Regions from separate parts of the Homo sapiens genome. Here region 1 is linked to region 2. The links come from fine-mapping of genetic effects on gene expression. Tissue or cell type: whole blood. Region 2 holds a variant in brackets; the other region holds the start of a gene. All regions are shown on one strand. Distances are between the middles of the regions.

Region 1 (2,615 bases), 110 kb after region 2:
CAGTCCGTGTAGACAAGTGCACGTGCAAGGAAACGTGTGTGCAGCCTGCGGCACCATGGACATCAGCAGGGCAGCCTGGGTGGGCACCTGGGGAGCACCCTCCAGGCGGGGCATGCCCAACTCACATGGAGCCCACCCTCCCTTGCCCGCACCGCGGGACCTCACAGCCGGTGGGGCGGGGGAGTCCCACGAGGGCTGCTAGGGAGGGGTTGCTGATTGCCCCACCGCCCCTGATTCCCCCAGCCAAGCCTCTCAATGTCCCTCGGGCTGCAGATGGCGGGCGTTGCTGCCTCCTCTCACCGCCCGCCCTGGAGGCAGCGCTGGGACAACCCTGTCCCCCACGCCCTCTACTGCCGCCAACGCCCCCATTCATCCCACTGTGGACTGACCTCGGAGAAACGGGAGGTTCTGAGCCCAGACCGTGAGGCTGGGGTGGAGGCGGCCCGACACCCCCACCCACCCTCGGTACCCACGTTTCTGCAAAAACCCGCTCGTTAACCCCTTGGTGGCCGGGGCGCTCCGAGGCCGGGCCCCGCCCTTCCAGCCCACGGCCCCCGCCCTCGACTTGGCCCAGCATCGGGGACCCTCGGACCGCCACCCTCGGCCCTGCCGAAGCCGTCAACTTTCCCGGGAAGCGGCAACTTTTCCTGCCGCCTCCGGCTCCGCCCTCCCGGGGCCGGGGCGCCAGCGGCCCCAGCCTGGCGCGGCACTGCGGTGGCTTTCCCTGCCGCCCGGCTACGCTTCCCTCGCCTCGGCAGCCCGGGACGGGCCCTGCGGCTCCGGGGAGGGGGCGAGCCGCCCCCCTCCGCGCCCCGCCGCCGGCCGGGCTCGGGTGCAGCGCGGACACTCACCTCCAGCGGACGCCCTCTTCATCGTAGGGGTTGGGCGGGGCGCGTCGGGGACTGAAAGTCGTTTCGGGGCGGGCGCCCGTCTCCCCGCGGCCGGGTCCGCATCCAGGCGCCGCCGCTACGGCCCGGCCCCGGCCCGGCCGCGGGACGAGGCTCGGCGCGCTCCGCTCCGCCCGGCTCTGGCTGGGCTCGGGCCGCGGGTGCGCAGGGCGCGCAGGGCGCACAGGGCGAGGGCGGCGGCGGCGCGGGGGTTGGGGCGTGGGCGGCGCGGCGGGCCGGGGCGCGCAGGCCGGGCCGCAGGAGGCGCTCAGCCCGCCCGGTGCACCGGCGCCGCGCGGTCCCAGACAAAGGCGGCGCATTCCTGAAGAGGCGGCGGCCCCTGCAGGCGGCGGAGGGGATGGCGGCCCGGGCCGGAGCCGGCCGGGGACGCGGGCCCGAGGGTGTGGCGGCCTAGGCTGGCCCGGTCCCCAAGCGGGCAAGGGCTTTGTCCCGAGGCCTAGGAATGGCCTCTGCCTGACCCACTCCCTTCCTGGCCTCACGAAACCCATGAATCCCCCGCCCCCTGCACAGAAGCCCCTTGCTGCAGCACGATCGCCCCCATTTTTCAGTAAGAAACAGGCTCAGGGCTTAAGAGAGTTCTGGGGGCCCTCCTGGGCCTTTGTGGCCCTCTCTGCACCATCCTAGAGAAGGGACCTAGGCCTGATGTTACCCGTAACCCTGCAGGGGTCCCCCACCTCTTCCCTTCTGCGGAATGGGGGCTCCAAACCCAGAAGACGCTCTCCGAGGTCACCTGCTTAGTATCCCCCCACTCTACCAAGCCAGCCCCCCACGGGCGGTGTGAGGCATGGGGCCAGAGAATCCAGTGACGCCCCTGCACACACCACACAGGGGTGCAGGTGTCCCTTCTCAATCTTCTGCTCGGGGCACCTACCGGGCCTCACCGATGAGCTCCTAAGTGCATCCCGGGGTCTTCAGACAACTGCCAGGCTGCCCCTGCACCTGGAGAAGTGCTGGGAGTCAGCTCAGCCGGGCTGGGTCCTCCCCAGGCCCACCCTGCATGAGAGGACCATGCAGATGAGGGTCTTGCAGGCCCACCTGGTGTCAGTCTGTAGGACCCTGACTCAAGGACGGAGTGGGCCAGCCTGATGCCTTGATGGCCCCCCTCAGAGCCCAGGTCCACTGATATGAAGCAGAGAGACCTGGTGACTGGGCACCCCTGTGCCCTCTGCCTGCCCCTGGCCATGGAGGTGGCCCTGAGGGAGATGAGCAGGGCGCAGGGCCGGTGACCTGCCTGCCTTGTGCAGAGGAAGTGAGGACCTCCCAGAGCCCTGGTGCTCCCATCTGATCCCAGTGGCAGGCAGCTTCGCAGGGTGGAGCCATGCTGGGTGGGCCCTCTGCCTGGTGTGGAGGCTGCACTGCCCACATGCCTCTGGCTGCCGCTCTGTGGCCCTCATCACTTTGGCCTGCTTTATCCCTATCACCCTTGTCCCAGCCTAGGCTTATGAGGGCATTGTGGAGTGCATGCCATTCCCAGCCACACAGAAGGTGAGGTGGGGCCCAGACACCCCCAGCCACTCTGTCCCCTGGCCTCCTGAAGGGGTGGGCTGTGCACACACTGCCACCTCCCCAGAGGGTGCTGGCTGCCGAGTGCCACCAGCTCAGCCCCTGAGGTGGCTCAACAGGTCCTCCCAGAGCCACACCAAGACGTCATCACCCATTGCACAGATAGGGAACCTCAGGCGAAGCTCACAGAGCCAGTGGGAGGCT
Region 2 (2,751 bases):
GGGTTCCCAGCGTGCAGGAGGCCAGCTTAAGTTCAGTAGGGTCCCCCTGCAGGGACTCCAAGAGGCAAACCACATGGAGAGTCACCTGAGAGGGAATGATGGAGGCTGGGGAGGTGGAGCCCCCACCTCCAACTGCTGCCTCGGCCCCCACAGCAGGGGAGGGCGGGAGGCTGGCACTGGCACTGCCCTGGGAGATGCCACCTGGGCCTTGGTCTGGGGAGGAGGGCTGGCCAGGAGGCTGGGTACGGCTACTGCTCTGGAGTGACCGAACCATTTCCACCCTGCTTGCCTTATTCTTCTCATGAGGGCCTCAAGGGGACACACCAGAGGTTTACTGGGGACATGGCAGGGGAGGGATCTCAGTGCTGGCCTTCTGGGGCCCTGCGTCCACTCCGCCCCTTTCTGACCTGGGCTGGGGCCTCTGCCCTCCCCGGGGCCTGGAGACAGAGCCCTTTTGGAGGCCCTCAGGCTTGACAAGCCTACTTCTTAGAGCCAGGCTGTGGGCTGGGCTGTATCCTGGTGGGATGAGGGATCTGGGGCTTGGGTGGGAGTGGGGCTGGGAGCAGGTGGAAGTTGGTGCCTCAGGCTCTGAGGAATGGGCCTGGGATGGCTGCAAAGTGGAGGAGAGGCTCTCTCAACCCTGGGCTTTGGGGTCTGAGCCCAGCCCTGTCCTCAGGCAGTCTGCCCCTGCAGCCCCGCATTGCCATGTTGGTTGGAGTTGCGATGAGAGGTGCTGGGGCCTCCCTTGCCTCTGCCCAGCACAGCTGAGAAGTTACGTGCTGCTGCCCAACTGTGGGGGTTTCAAACCCCGCTGGAGCCTCCAGGTGGGCCCTTGGGCAGCAGGGCCTTGTGGCGGGAGGAGGGGACCCTGGGAAGTCAGGGACCAGGCGGGGGAGGGAGAGAAGGTGGGAGCACAGTTGTGGGTGTGGGTACCCGCCCCTTCCTGAACTGTGTTCCTCCCGGCCCACCTGACTCTAGTCCTCTGTGCCGGCTGCCAGGGGATACCCGAGGCCACCTGCGTCCCCAAAAGAAGGTCTCACCTTCAGAGCCAGCCTTTGAGGCTCCTGGGTGACCTCAGCCTGTTACCCTTGACCCTGAGTTCACCTAGATCAAGTGGGAGGCCGCTCTTTGGGCCTCAGTTCTCCCATCCTCAGGGAGTAGGTCCTCTGTCCCCTGACAGCACCCCTCCTCGCTGTGCCACCACCACTGCCAGGGTTCTGATCTGTGGATGTTCCCCAGGGGGTGGCTCTGGGCTCTCAGGCAACCGGCTACTGTGGATGGTGGTTTGCACGAGAATAGTGTCACTCTTGGGTCCTTTGCTTGAAGTTGGCTCTGCTGAGTGCAGCCTGCAGACATTTTCAGGAAACTGAATCCACAGGCTGGAGCCTTCTGCTTCCCCACAACCCAAACGGCCCCCAGCCAGCCAAACAGCCACGAGAACCCAGCTGCTAGCAACTGCCAGCAGGAAACCCACTACCAGCCGCTCACAGATGGACAGCCCATCCCAGGAGCTGGCCCCACCTCCCCGCCCCTCT[G/C]CTGACCAACCCAGCAGCTCCTTGGGTGGGTGTGGCCACCCTGCTGCCCCAACCTGCTCCCGGACCCTGTGCCAGGAGGTGCTTCGCCTCAGCGGGGCCTTGCCTCCCCCAGAGCCGCTCTGCTGCCTGACCTTGCAATGTCATGGGTCCTCTGGGCACTGGCGCAGTTGGGTGGGATCAGCTTTGGCCAGCAGGTGGGGGGCAGGTGGGTAAATCCTCCCTCTCTGCCATCTCCGCTTCCTTCCTCCTGCCCGGCTTCCCTGCCTTTTTCCTACTCTGGCTCCAGGGTTGCACTGCTCAGAAAGCTGTTGCTGCCTGGCCAGCACGCAGGCCTGATTTTCCTGGGAGCCTGGACTAAGACCCTGACCAGTCCTCCCACCCACCACCCACACCACCACCCAGCTAGCCAGCAGCTAGGCCAGGAGTGATCAGGAGGGGGCCCAACCGACCACCCACCCGGCGTCTCCAGCCGGCCAACTCTGCCCACTCAGGGCCGTGAGCTGGAGGTGCCAGGAGCCTCCCGGGAGGCAGTGTGAGGCATTCTTCTTAGTAAGTCCCGCATCGATGATAAAGGGCAGTATCAGCCCCTCTCTGATGCGCAGTGAGCGGCTCACCATACAGGGGAGGCGTTTAATTTATCTCGGGAACTGGGCGCAAGTTATAAAAATGGTAATTTCTTGGAGATTCAATTACATGTTTTCATTGTTACCCTCGATAATCAAGGAAACGATTTTTTATAAAAGGCTGTGGGATGATACTGATCTCAGGAGAGGATCTGGGCCGGGTGGGGGCTTTGGGGACGAAGAGGAGGGCAGTGTCTGCTGGGGGCAGGCAGGGCAAGTGGAGCTGGGCCGGCCGGCCCACCAGCTCCTGCAGCCCACCAGTTCCTCCAGCTCCTCCAGCCCTCCAGTTCCTCTAGCTCTCCAGCTCCTCCAGCCCACCAGTTCCTCCAGCCCTCCAGCTCCTCCGGCCCTCCAGCTCCTCCAGCCCACCAGCTCCTCTAGCCCTTCAGCTTCTCTGGCCCACCAGTTCCTCCAGCCCTCCAGCTCCTTCAGCCCTCTCTGGCCTCAGTCTTCCCATCTGCCGACGGGCCCATCTCTGGTAGGGAGGGTCTGCGTTTTGGCATGAGGGCTGATGAAGTGAGGCGTGACTCCTGGGCCGTGAGGGTGGCTGCGTCCCTGCCCCTCCCTTCCTGGTGCCCGAGCAGTCTCGTCCA

Evidence for each region. PIP is the estimated chance that this variant, and not a neighbour inherited with it, causes the effect. A credible set is the group of variants that fine-mapping cannot tell apart.
Region 1: RTN4R starts here. The variant in region 2 is the best candidate, but not a certain one, in a credible set for the expression of RTN4R in whole blood (TOPMed, PIP 0.88).

What each region holds. Positions count from the first base shown.
Region 1 is chr22:20,267,220-20,269,834 of GRCh38, forward strand. RTN4R (reticulon 4 receptor) reads right to left here and starts at 1,099. Exons shown (of 2, transcript NM_023004.6): 1 at 852-1,099. The coding sequence starts at 873. RefSeq lists an enhancer at 1-631 and silencers at 843-1,002, 1,093-1,252, 1,303-1,362.
Region 2 is chr22:20,157,737-20,160,487 of GRCh38, forward strand. No RefSeq gene overlaps it. Among named protein-coding and RNA genes, the nearest start is that of CCDC188, 8.1 kb to the left of the region's middle. The variant G/C (reference allele first, on the strand shown) is at 1,536.